Regions from separate parts of the Homo sapiens genome. Here all the other regions are reported to be linked to region 2. Evidence: microRNA targets listed by miRTarBase, many of them from high-throughput screens and not tested one by one. Region 2 holds a microRNA gene; each other region holds the end of a gene's coding sequence.
What was found. Region 2 holds the annotated microRNA hsa-miR-759 (GCAGAGUGCAAACAAUUUUGAC, at 2,864-2,885, shown strand). A microRNA usually pairs through its seed, bases 2 to 8, with sites in the 3' UTR of a target mRNA and lowers its output. Matches are read on the target gene's strand: a 7mer-m8 pairs with bases 2 to 8, a 7mer-A1 pairs with bases 2 to 7 and ends in A, and an 8mer does both.

Region 1: miRTarBase lists VPS37C as a target of hsa-miR-759. Seed matches in the 3' UTR shown: 7mer-m8 at 2,903-2,909.
Region 3: miRTarBase lists AMBRA1 as a target of hsa-miR-759. Seed matches in the 3' UTR shown: 7mer-A1 at 892-898.

Annotation. Positions count from the first base shown.
Region 1 is chr11:61,127,973-61,132,155 of GRCh38, forward strand. It overlaps VPS37C (VPS37C subunit of ESCRT-I), which reads right to left. Exons shown (of 5, transcript NM_017966.5): 5 at 2,285-4,183. The coding sequence ends at 3,848. Among named protein-coding and RNA genes, the nearest start is that of CD5, 28 kb to the left of the region's middle. RefSeq lists an enhancer at 1,825-2,119.
Region 2 is chr13:52,807,210-52,811,422 of GRCh38, forward strand. It overlaps MIR759 (microRNA 759), which reads left to right and starts at 2,841; the gene lies at 2,841-2,931.
Region 3 is chr11:46,393,672-46,397,884 of GRCh38, reverse strand. It overlaps AMBRA1 (autophagy and beclin 1 regulator 1), which reads left to right. Exons shown (of 18, transcript NM_001387011.1): 18 at 1-1,471. The coding sequence ends at 435. Among named protein-coding and RNA genes, the nearest start is that of CHRM4, 4.0 kb to the right of the region's middle.

The sequences.
Region 1 (4,183 bases), not on the chromosome of region 2:
CTGCCTTGGCTGGTGAAGGCAACCCACTGCTCCCCCAGCCAGTGCTCGGGGGCTGGTGTCCACATCCCTTGGTAGAGGACGCGCTGCCGTGACCTGGACAACCTCCCCGTTCCTGCATCCCAGCAACCTGCTAGAGCAGGGCCAGCCCTTCCACTCACCTGTGTGTCCCTCAAACCCTGCCCATTCCGTAAATTATGTTCCTGCGTAAATCATGTGACCTGGCCAATGAGTGGGCGTGCAACCCCTGATTCTAGCACATTAGGTCAAGGATACCAAGGACCAAAAAGTCTAGCTTTCACACTGCCATGTGCCCAAGCATGGTGGCTCGTGCCTGTAATCCCAGCACTTTGGGAGACCAAGGTGGAAGGATTGCTTGAAGCCAGGAGTTCCAGACCAGCCTGGGCAACAAAGTGAGACCCCAGCTCTACCAAAAAAAGGAGTTTTTTAATTAGCTGAGCATGGTAGCACATGCCTATAGTCTGTTATTCATGAGGCTGGTGCAGGAGGATCACTTGAGGCCAGGAGTTTAAGGCTGCAGTGAGCCATGATCTTGCCATTGCACTCCAGCCTGGGCAACAGGCTTTTTTTTTTTTTTTCCAAAAAAACCATATATATACAAATAATTAGCCAGGCATGGTGGCACACACCTGTAATCCCAGCTACTCAAGAGGCTGAGGCAGGAGAATCACTTGAACCCGGGAGGCGGAGGTTGCAGTGAGCTGAGATGGCGCCAATACACTCCAGCCTGGGAGCCAGATGAGTGAGATTCTGTCTCAAAAAAAAAAAAGTTATCATGCACCCAGGGATCTGGGAGTACAGAGCGGAACAGAGAGCTGTAAGGACATGACATTTATATGGCCTCACCACATCCAGCAGAGCAAAGTGTCCTAAGCTAGGAATCTCTTGAGACTCTAAATTTGATGCTCAGGGTCTGTCCCCCTGCAGCGGGAGGCCCACTGTAGTCTGGTGAAAAGCAGCCAGTGATCTCCCAGGGATGCAGGGAGGGAGGCGTGAGGAGCGCCTGTGTGTGCTGCCCTCTGAGGTGAGGTGGCCAGGGAGAGGGGGAAGCAAAGAGCACAGGGTGGGACACGCGGGCTGACCAGCTGAGGCAGCTCATGATGGTCCTTTCTTAGAAAGTCAGCCCCTCCGTGCCCCCTGCCACCACTCTGGCACCAACCCAAGGCAGGTGACCTGACTATGCGCCTAGAGGGAGATTTGCAGCCTCTTCCTACAAAGCCAAATTGCTTCCAGCTGTCCCTGATGTCCTGTGTCCTCAGCCTTGGACACCTGCAAGGCAAAGCCAGAGTTCAGCTGGGGGTGAAGGGCAGTAAACGTTTGACCAGAGCCCAGAGACTCTCAGCTCTGTCCTCGGGAGGCACTTCTGGCACCACCAAGGCAGGGGGAAGGAGCCCCTGCAGCCTCTGAAATCCAACCGACCCAGTCCAAGTCCCACCTCCTCCTAAGGCTGTGCAACCCGCTCACCGAACCACCTGCCCTGTGGTTTCCTCCCATTTAAACTGGGGATGAAAGGGCTGTTGCGAGGACTCCAGGACATAATGCGCCTGAAAGCACAGTACAGCCTGCAGCCATAGCGACTTCAGGGCATCTCTAGGCATCCTCCACAGGTGGCCGCCCGGTCACCTTGCGGGGAAGGAGAGGCGGAGGGCTGACATGAGGGACTGTTAGAAGCCTGGTCTTCAGACTCCCTCCAAGCTGCCCTTCCTGCTGAGCTGAAGACGCCCTCCCTGGCCTCGGGATAGGCAGCTCAGCAGCAGAGGCGACGCTGGGGAGGGAGGCAGGCTGGGCCAAGGCCTAGAAGACTGTTGGTGCCGCAGCCAGTTTAGCGGCCTGCTGTTCCTCTGAGCCCATCCTGCAAGCCCAGGTTAGAATTAGATGGCTCACAGACAGGCCCACACGCCGACATCCCGCCAGCCCGGCAGGTGGCAGGAACGCAGCACCTCCCGAGCAGGCTGAGGACCAGACGCCCCCTCGTGGCATCCTGTGGCCTTGCATGCCATTGCTCTCAGTCCAGGACCAGGCAAACGTAGGCTCCAATAGGAAAACGGCTAAGAAAGAAAGCGGAAGAGCGGGAGAGGGAAGGTAAATACTCCCAGGGCCAGCCCTGGGGCGAGCGGGCAAGGGAGGGCTGACATCCAGACGGATGGGGCTTTGGGATGTGAATCACAGAGGCCCCTCCAGAGAGCACGATCTGAAGGCTGCAGAAGAGTTCAAGGCACCCACATGCAGCCACGTCTTCACTCAAACCCAGCAACACCACACCACATGTGACTCATCAAAGTTTATTATGGCAATTAATTACACAAACATACAGGCGGTCGGTCATCCAGCTCAGAAGCACTCAAACCAGTAGAGTCCATTAGTGATTTCTCTTTATAAATAACTTAGGAGAAGCAAGCACATTTGGTAAAGAACCGGCAGCGCTGACCTAGCGTCACGCGGATGGCACATAGGCCGGGGAGGGGCAGGCACCAGAAGGTCAAGGTCCCTCCTTGGCCCCAGCAGCCCCGGGCCCACCAGATGCTGCGTCCTCAGGTAGTGGACATTTCAAGGCACGTACAACTTCCTAAGCAATAGCAGCTCCAGGCTCTTCCCTGAGACCTGGTTTACCTCTGGAACAACCAAGTTAACACTCATCACACCCCCTTTGTCTATTGTATTCATTCTTATTACTGAACATGCCCCAAACCCCACAGTGCAGGGGGCTGCATATTAAACAGAGACATAATCCCCACCCTTTACATTCTGAAGACAGGGAGGTGTGAAAAAATTGCCCCTAATGTAGTGATGGTGTTTTTTAAAAAGCACCATTTGGGAAGTAAAGTTAGGGCCTCTTTTGATGCCTGTCTTAGGATGGACACTGGGGGTGGGAGGATTACATCAACAGAGTGAGAAGGGGAGGGGAAGGGAGGGGGCTGCTTGTGAATGAGATTCAAGGCACTAAAGGAGTGGATGGATGCGTGGGCCTCGGGCAAAGTCGCCCTAAAGTGGGGACCCCAGAGGAGAGAAGGGAGGGTGGCTGGGGAGGTGACCTGGCCCTCCAATCCTAAACAAGCCCCAATGTGACCACAATCTCCAGGGCTAGAGCTGCCCGCTTCCCTCTGGCCAGAGGGCCCAAGGCAGCCCCCTGGGTTCTCCAACCACTGCAAGCAAGGTCTGGGGACAACCTTGACAACCCCCAGCCTTCTTGCTGGGCTGGCGCTGCTGCCACTCAAATAGGACATAGGACAAGCTTGTCTGACATCAGCTACTGGAGTTAAATTATGGCTTTATAGGACTCAAACCTGTTGTTTTTCCCAACTCTGTTCTCTCCCTCCAATCCAACCCCTGCCACAGTGCATGGGCAGGCTAGCCTTGAATGGACTGGACAGACACCAACAGCTGCATCCCTTGGCATGGGGCTCCATGTCAAATATGCCAAACCCCAGGGGAGATGGAGGGGGCTGGAGACCCGGGGCCTCCTCATAGAGATAACTCTGCACTGGGTTCAAATGGCCCTGAGTGCAGCCGCAAGTAGATGCTCATAAATGCGCACATGCGCTCACTCACACAGACACCGGCGAGAGGTGCTGGACTCCAGCCTGGCTAGCACCGCTGCAGCCAGGCACTGAAAGGAGGGGCTTCCAGGAGGACCTCTGGCCAGAAGGCCAGCAAGTGCCATGACCAGTCACACCGCCCAGTGCCTTGTCCCTCCAAGGCCTCTGGGTGCCGACGCAAGTCCACAGGGAGCACCAACGCCACTTCCAGTTGACCCTCGAATCTCGGCGATGGCTGGGCCAAAGGTTGAGCGTGGGTGGGACTAGGGAGGGGCCGAGGGCCAGGAGTGTGTCTAATACCCAGGCCAGGCAGGCCCCGGCGGTGGTGGGAACCCATAGGGAGGGGCGGGCCCGGGGGGATAAGGGGGCTGCAGGGGCACTGAGGGCTGGGGCTGGCCTGGAAAGCTGGGGAGCTGAGGCTGTATTGGGTAGGGAGGTTTTCCTCCTGTTGCGGGGTATGGGGACTGTTGAGGATAACCAGGACTGGGGGCCCTGCCTCCCCGCAAGGGGTACCCAGGCCCAGAGGCACCCATTGGGGTCCCAGGATAGCCCGGCCGGGGTGGCATGCTCCTCTGTGGGGACCAGGAGTAACCCGCAGCACCCCTGGGTCCAAGCTGGGCTGCCGGGTA
Region 2 (4,213 bases):
TCAGAATCAGAAGGAAAAGTTGGCTGTTCTCTGTGTTCATTGAGCATTAAGACAAGAGGAAAGGCAGTTCAAAGATAGCTGAGGCCACTGTGGTGGATTCCTTGAAGAGTGTGGAATCTCCTTAGGTGGTAAATTTGATGCAGAGCCTGGGACCAGCAGCATTTATTTGTAAATGGTACAGAGATGGAGAGCAACCCTAAGCGACCCTGGTACTCTTTCCACTATAAGGAGTTGGGGATTTCCTCTGCAAATTTTTGATGAGTTGGTCTCATTTTAGAAATATTAAAATACTTATAAATGTGTAATACTGACACAGGTGCCAGTAAAAAAGAGGAATCAGCCGGGCGTGGTGGCTCATGCCTGTAATCCCAGCACTTTGGGAGGCTGACGCGGGTGGATCACCTGGGTTCAGGAGTTTGAGACCAGCCTGACCAATATGGCGAAATCCCATCTCTACTAAAAATACAAAAATTAGCTGGGCGTGGTGGTGGGCGCCTGTAATCCCAACTACTCGGGAGGCTGAGGCAGGAGAATCGCTTGAATCCGGGAGGTGGAGGTTGCAGTGAGCTGAGATTGCCCCATTGCACTCCAGCCTGGGCAACAGAGCAAGACTCCATCTCAAAAAAACAAAATAAAACAAAAAAAACATCCTCGGGGATTATGAAGACATGAAAAACGGAATTGGGGCTGGATAAACTTCCTTCAAGAGCTGGGTCCTTTGTGGCCAGGCGTGGTGGCTCATGCCTGTAATCCCAGCACTTTGGGAAGCCAAGGCGGGTGGATCACGAGGTCAGGAGATCGAGACCATCCTGGCTTACACGATGAAACCCTGTCTCTACTAAAAATCCAAAAAAAAAAAAAAAAAAAAAAAAAAAAAAATTAGCCAGGCATGGTGGCGGGCACCTATAGTCCCAGCTACTCAGGAGGCTGAGGCAGGAGAATGGCGTGAACCTGGGAGGTGGAGCTTTCAGTGAGCCGAGATCCTGCCACCACACTCCAGCCTGGGCGACAGAGCGAAACTCTGTCTGAAAAAAAAAAAAAGAGAGAGCTGGGACTTTGCAATCAGGCATGCATACCTGGTTTTCAGCCGTGTGAACCTGGATAGGTGACCTCATCTCCTGAAACCTCAGTTTCTGCATCTATAAAATTGGGGAAGTATCAGTTCCTTCTTTATAGGGTTGGAATAAGAATTGATGAGGTAATACATATAATGTGCTTAACACATTGTCTGGAACATAGTATTTAATTAATGCTAATTATGATTAACTTTTTAAAAAGTGGTTTAGAAAAGCTAATTAATGCCTCACTTAATTACAACCCTTAGACATTAAAAACATTTAAAAATGCCTCAGCATAGATATTCAGTGGGAAGACTTTTGTCTGTTACTTCTCAGTTAACCCTCCTGGCATTTAAATAGTGAGCGTGTGTTGAGGTGCAGGCATCCATTCTCATTTAACAAAGCCCTTTTGAATGGGTAGTTCCTTGAGGTGGCTCTAGGAGAAAGCCCTATCGTGTGTCTAAATGACCTACATTATTTGGAAAAACAAACAAAGCTGGATTGATCTGAGTTGATTGCTTTCAGAAACAACAAATTGGCTAGATTCAACGATTTCCTCCTTTCCTTCACCAGCCAATTTTTGGGTAGATATAGCTTCATTATAAAATCTGACCAAGCTTGACTCTATATAATTCAATCTCAAAGTATAAACAATCTGGAATGTTTTGTGGAAGACCTTGAATGATTTCTGAGCAGGAGATGGAAGCCTGAAGAATCAGAGAGTGAATGCATTCAGGTTTTCAGTGGCACGTGACCTTGATTAGCACACAGTAACAAACCAATTGGTGTCTCCTGAAACTGACCCCTCTCCCTTGGTTGATGAGTTTGATCCATGCTATTGTCTCTGGAAGGGTACTGGAAGAAACCTCAGGGATGAGAGGAACCTAACCTCTCATTCTGTAGATGAGGAAGCTGAGATCTAATGAGTTTGCATGACCAGCATCTATTACTCTACAATATTTTCCTCTTGGTTCCAACGCCATGCTCCATTTTCTTCAAGCAAGGGCTATTGGGGGAAATTTTCAATCATTTTCCAGTTTCCATGTTATTCACAATAAAACACAAGTTATCTTTATTAAAAATGTAAAAGTGTCAGCTTTTTAGATCTGGGTGTATCCATTTGTTTCCCTGGGAGACAGTGGGGAAGAGGCACAGTGCCTGGGGGTCGGGGCCTGGGAGGGTGGTGCCAATGGGGAGGGTGAAGAAGACCTTCACTGCCACCTTGTGGTCACCTGGGGCCAAACAGGGTCATTCCTTGGGAACCTCTCTCTGTCTAGCTTCTTTGGCTGCTTGCCTGAGATCTTTATCAGTGCAGTCAGCATTGCGTCAATGAAGCTTTTGTTATAATTTCTCTTCCATTGCATTTTCAGTTTCTTTAGCCCAGGGAAGGGGAAGTTGTTGAAAGCTAGCAAAATTCTGTATGTTGAAAAAACATCTGCAGGGAGGAAGAGGTCAGAATCCAGGAAAGGCTCTTAAGAAGAAATGTTTACGAGCTTTGCAAGATCCTTGTCTCATCTTATAGCATCTCTCCACAAGAGCAGAGATTATGGGACAAAAGTCAGGCCTGAGTTGGCACCTGTCATTATTATTACTTGGTCAATTGAGGAAGTTAGGATAGATGAGGATTCATTTATTATCTCATTTATTGGCCTTATTTGCAGTCCAATTTAGTTCTCACGTCACATTCTGATAGTCTCAGATTCAATAGCATCAGTTGAAATACTAACAATATTTTTCAGTGCAAAAGAATGACTTTCAAAGTATATATTATGGAAAGGATTATAATAAATTAAATGCCTAAACTGGCAGAGTGCAAACAATTTTGACTCAGATCTAAATGTTTGCACTGGCTGTTTAAACATTTAATTTGTTAGAATGGAAGTAGCGGCACAGAATAAGCATGTTAATTAAACTTGGGCTTTAGCAATGTGAGTCATCCCACGGACACAGAGCGTGACAAACCCGGATGGCAAAAGTCAATGTGCGTTGATTTCTCATTCTCCAAATGAACACTTAACATCTTTAAACCCTGCAGACATTAGTGGTTTTTAATGAATTGTTCTGTCTCTTTGAGGTGACTTTTAGATGATGCCATAGTACTTTTAGTCTGGGAAACAACTTTGCCAATTAAGTTGCAGGGAAGTTATCACCGCAGAAAATTGATTAAAATGATTATATGGCGAATCTGTTCCATGCTTTTACATTAAAAAATAGAAAAATGTAAAGAAGAGGTATAAAAACAAAACCTTGAAACACCAGTTTATCGAAAACAAAAAATCTCCATCATCACCATCATATTACCATCACCACTGCCACCACCGCCACCATCATCACATCTTTTGGGGCTATGGAATATCTAGGCCCAGATTTCCTGTCTGGCCCTGGTTCTACGTGGTAGAGTTATGGTAACATGATGCTGGTTAAGTCACTTGTCTCCTCTAAGCTTCAGGTTCCTCATTTGTAAAATGAGGGCCTTTTTATTGGTTAGGGTAAGGCTAAGCTGATGCAGCAAAGAGGCCCCCAAATAGCATGATTTACATCAGCTAATAGTTCATTGCTTCTTAGAAGTAACCCAGTTGTTTCAGGCTGGCAGGGGAGCACTTGGCTCCCTTACTCAAAAATCTTTGGTGACTCCTTACTGCCTGCAGAACTCAATTCAAGGTCCTTCACAACCTGACCTCAACCTACACTTCCAACTTAGTCACTCATAGCCTTTCTACTTCCATCTGTGTCTTTTCTGTCCTGTTCCCTCTGCCTAGAATTCTCTTTTCTCCTTCACCTATTGACATTGTATGCATTCTACATGGCCTAGCTCAGAGGCTGCCTCCTTCATGAAGCCTTGTAATTCCCTGCCTCTTGCCCCTTTTGATTACCTTTTATAACACTCATTATTTCTTCCTCTGCCTTCGCATATCTTTGCCTCCTTTATAGTATCAAATTCCATTTGCCTTATAATTAAATCAGTTATTTATGCAAATAGGCTTTATGTTTCTGGAGGCAACAGACTGCATATTATTTATCTTTGTTCCCCAACTTCTCTATCCTTCCTTGCCTTGCCCAATATCCAGCATTGTTGCTTGCCCAATAAATGTATGTTGAACTGAACGGAGTAAAAAAAGTTGTTACAGATAAAAAAAACTCAGTCATCAAAATAG
Region 3 (4,213 bases), not on the chromosome of region 2:
ATGGCGGAGGGCGGCATGACAGCCGTGGTGCAGCGGGAGCAGAGCACCACCATGGCCTCCATGGGCGGCTTCGGCAACAACATCATCGTCAGCCACCGCATTCACCGCAGCTCTCAGACGGGCACTGAACCTGGTGCCGCCCACACCTCCTCACCCCAGCCCTCCACCTCTCGGGGACTGCTCCCAGAGGCCGGGCAACTGGCAGAGCGAGGCCTAAGCCCCCGGACAGCTTCCTGGGACCAGCCTGGTACCCCTGGGCGGGAGCCAACCCAGCCAACCCTGCCCTCTTCCTCCCCTGTCCCCATTCCTGTTTCCCTTCCCAGCGCTGAGGGACCAACCCTCCACTGCGAGTTGACCAATAACAACCACCTTCTGGATGGTGGCAGCAGCAGGGGGGACGCTGCAGGCCCTAGGGGAGAACCACGGAACAGGTAGAGACAAACGTTGCACTGGTGCCTCCCCTCGAACCGCCAAGCAGAAACCGGACCTCACAGCTGACTGGGAACTGGACATGTGGAAGAGCTGCTGGCTGCATCAGGGAACAGGAGGAGGAAGAGGGTCAGGGTGGAGAGGAAGATCAGTCAGTGGGCACAAGACAGTCAAATGGGCAAGGCCTGCCTCGGGGAACTAGAACCTTCCAGGATCTGGAGCCCGGGAGAGCCACACTGTGGGCTTAATGTGAATAGAGGAACAAGTGGGTATCTCTGCCAGGCACCCCACTTTCTCCTAGTAACATGGGCTCAGGGGACTCAGCCCTGGACAGAGAGCCTCCAGAGAGTGAACAGTCTTCCAGATCTGGGCCAATCATCCTGGACAGAGGCCCGCGAGGCAGCTTTGCCCTGTCCACCTGTTGGGTGGGCAGAGCCACCAGGAACCCAGACACCACCTCCAACTCTGAGCCTTCCAGAGCTTCAGCCTCTCTTCGTCGTCTTACCCCACTGAAACCAACAGGGATCGGGCCAGGCTCCCAGATTCTTGAGGACAGGGACTTCGGCATTTACTAATGGGGGACTACTGTGGGGTAAGGGGGCGCCTGCTTGCCTGATACAGGATGGGGTCAAGGGACAGTGGGCAGGTCCTCACTCAGGAGTGGGGGGTGTAGGCTGGCCAGCCCCCAGGGCTTGTCCACCAGTCTTCTCCCCGCAAGGCCCTCAGAGCAGCGCCTGTGGGTGTCAGTATTACCTGAGCCTAGGCCAAAGCTAGCCCAAGGCTGGGGAAGGGGAGGAGACTCCAGGTCAGAATGTGAGGTCTCAGTCTGTGATTTAAGGTGTTGCATGTGGACTCTTAACTGTACGTGTAGTTTCTAGTGGAGAAATCAAGGCTCTGATCATTTTGTTTTTAGTATGAAAATGTGATTTCCTTTCTGTTTGTAACTCATCATAGAAACATTGTGGTGGGAGGAGAGGGGATAGTCTACAGCTAATGAGGGAAACACCAAAGATCACATCATTAAAATGATGACATGCCCCTCGCCAGGCTCCTCTCTCTTATTTCCAAGGAGGATGGGGGAGGGGTGGGGATTGGGAAGTGAGGGGCATTGAACTGGGCCAGGCCCAGGTTCTCCCGGCACTGTTTCTGGTGCTCTCCTAGTGGGGTGCAGTGGACCCCTCTGACCCCTTCGCCAGAGCTGGTCAGGTGAGGGCTGCCACCTCTGCTTCATACCACTTCTCTGTACGCCACCACTTCCTGCTTCCCCAGGGCCTGCTACAGACTGGGGCCACCTTCCAGTGCCAGGGTGAGTATGTAGGAAGGAACGACAGAAGGCTATTCATCCTAATAGCTTCCCACCCAGGACTACAGGCCTGAAGTGATGTAACTGGCCAGAAACCTGGATCCCCTCCAGTCCTGGGAAAGCACGCACAGCAGGTGTCCAGCCTGCTAGGCAGGTGGAGGGGCTTGGTCCTATCTGCAGGCAAGGTGCCAGTTGCTAGCTGCTCAGGTCTCCCTTGACTGTGTCTTCCCTACAGTGGCCGAAAGGCCTGCTCTATTCGTGGGCTTTGGCTGCTTGAAAGCTTCCAGCTGGCCAGGCGTGGTGGCTCACGCCTGTAATCCCAGCACTTTGGGAGACCGAGACAGGCGGATCACTTGAGGTCAGGAGTTTGAGACCAGCCTGGCCAACATGGTGAAACCCTGTCTCTGCTAAAAATACAAAAAAATTAGCCAGGCGTGGTGGCTCGCACCTGTAATCCTAGCTACTGGGGAGGCTTGAACCCTGGAGGCAGAGGTTGCGGTGAGTCAAGATCACGCCACTGCACTCCAGCCTGGGCAACAGAGTGAGACTCCGTCTCAAGTGGGAAAAGGATATTTGCCCCAACTCTTCAAGAGCTCTAATGGAAAATCCAAGCAATTCCAGGGCTTTTTGCCAGCAGCACGTACTTTTGAGTGTGTGTGTGTGTGCCCAAATCTGTCCCTGATGCCATGGGGCACTCAGAATTCCAGGTTCTGCTCCAACAGAGACAAAACCAAAAGATAAGTTGGCAAGCAAGAAATAAAAAACCATGGCCAGAGTTAGGAAGACTCTTATTTTCTAGAAAATTCTGTATTAGTGGACTCTGGACTGAAAGACACATCACTTAGCTGTGTGACTTTGGGCAAGCCATTTGCCTTTTCTGGGCTTCACTTTCCCTTGTTAGGATGCAGGGCTTGTACTACACAACCTCAAAGTTACTTCTAGTTCTGTACTTTGGAATCACTGAAGCCCAGAGAGCACACAAGTGGCTAGGGCAGGCTTCCTTTCAGAGGTGGGATTTAGACACCTGTAGTCCCTAAGTACTTGGGAGGCTGAGGCAGGAGGATCACTTGAGCCCAGGAGTCCAAGTCCAGCCTGGGCAACAAAGTGAGACCGTATCTCTCTCTCTCTTTTTTTTTTTTTTTTTTTTTGAGACGGAGTTTCGTTCTTGTTGCCCAGACTGGAGTGCAATGGTGCCATCTCGGTTCACCGCAACCTCCATCTCCCAGGTTCAAGCGATTCTCCTGCCTCAGCCTCCCTAGTAGCTGGGATTACAGGCATGAGCCACCACGCCTGGCTAATTTTGTATTTTTAGTAGAGATGGGGTTTCTCCGTGTTGGTCAGGCTGGTTTCGATCTCCCGACCTCAGGTGATCTGCCTGCCTTGGCCTCCCAAAGTGCTGGGTTTACAGGCATGAGCCACCGTGCCCGGCTGATGCTATCTCTTTAAAAAAAAAAAAAAGTGGATTTGAGCTAAGCATTGAAGGATGGAAGGAGAAGGGAGCCCACTGCCCCACATCCTCTCCCCACCACCCGTTGGAGGAAGAATTCCTTGGTCTGATAGTGGGTCCTGCTAATTTGTTTAATGTAAACCACAGGCCAGGAGTCAATGTGCGTTCTCTCTGTCAATCCTCACAAAAACTCTCTGAGGTCATTACTGCTGTTACCCCCAGAGCACACAATTAACTGGCAGAGCCAGAGTTTGAACCAAGTAGTGTATGATTCCAGAGTGCACACTTCAGCCAGTCATTTCTACAGAAGGAAGACAAGGTGTAGGAGAAACAATGGAACCCTGACTTGTTCTGTTGCTTTGGGGAAAAGGGTATGGGGAGGTCCCTAGGGATGAAGTGGTCCAAATTTGTTTTTTGGGTTTTTTTGTTTGTTTTTTGTTGTTTTGTTTTGTTTTGTTTTTGAGATGGAGTCTCTGTCACCCAGGCTGGAGTGCAATGGCACAATCTCAGCTCACTGCAACCTCCACCTCCCAGGTTTAAGCAATTCTCCTGCCTCAGCCTCCTGAGTAACTGGGATTACAGGTGTGTGCCACCACACCCAGCTAATTTTGTTTGTATTTTTAGTAGGGATGGGGTGTCACCATGTTAACCAGGCTGGTCTCAAACTCCTGACCTCAAGTGATCTGCCTGTCTCGGCCTCCCAAAATGCTGGGTTTGTGGGCGTGAGCCACCATCCGGCCAAGGTGGTCCAAATTTGGACCTGCCAGGCCTTGTCTCTGCTGTCTCTGGATGGTGCCAGCCACCCTCCCCAACCTCCCCACCCCCCATTGGAGGCCCTTGTCAACACCTCTCTGTCCCCACACCAGCCCCTTTCCTTAGAAAGCCCTTGCCCAATGACAGAGCCTCTCTGGTAGTAAAACCTTTGCAGGCCCCTTACACGTCACAAGGTTGTGGGGTCACCAGGGCAAAGATAGGGGCAGTCCCTTTTGGAGATGAGGAAATAGGTTCAGAGAAATTCTGTTACTTGTCTGCTG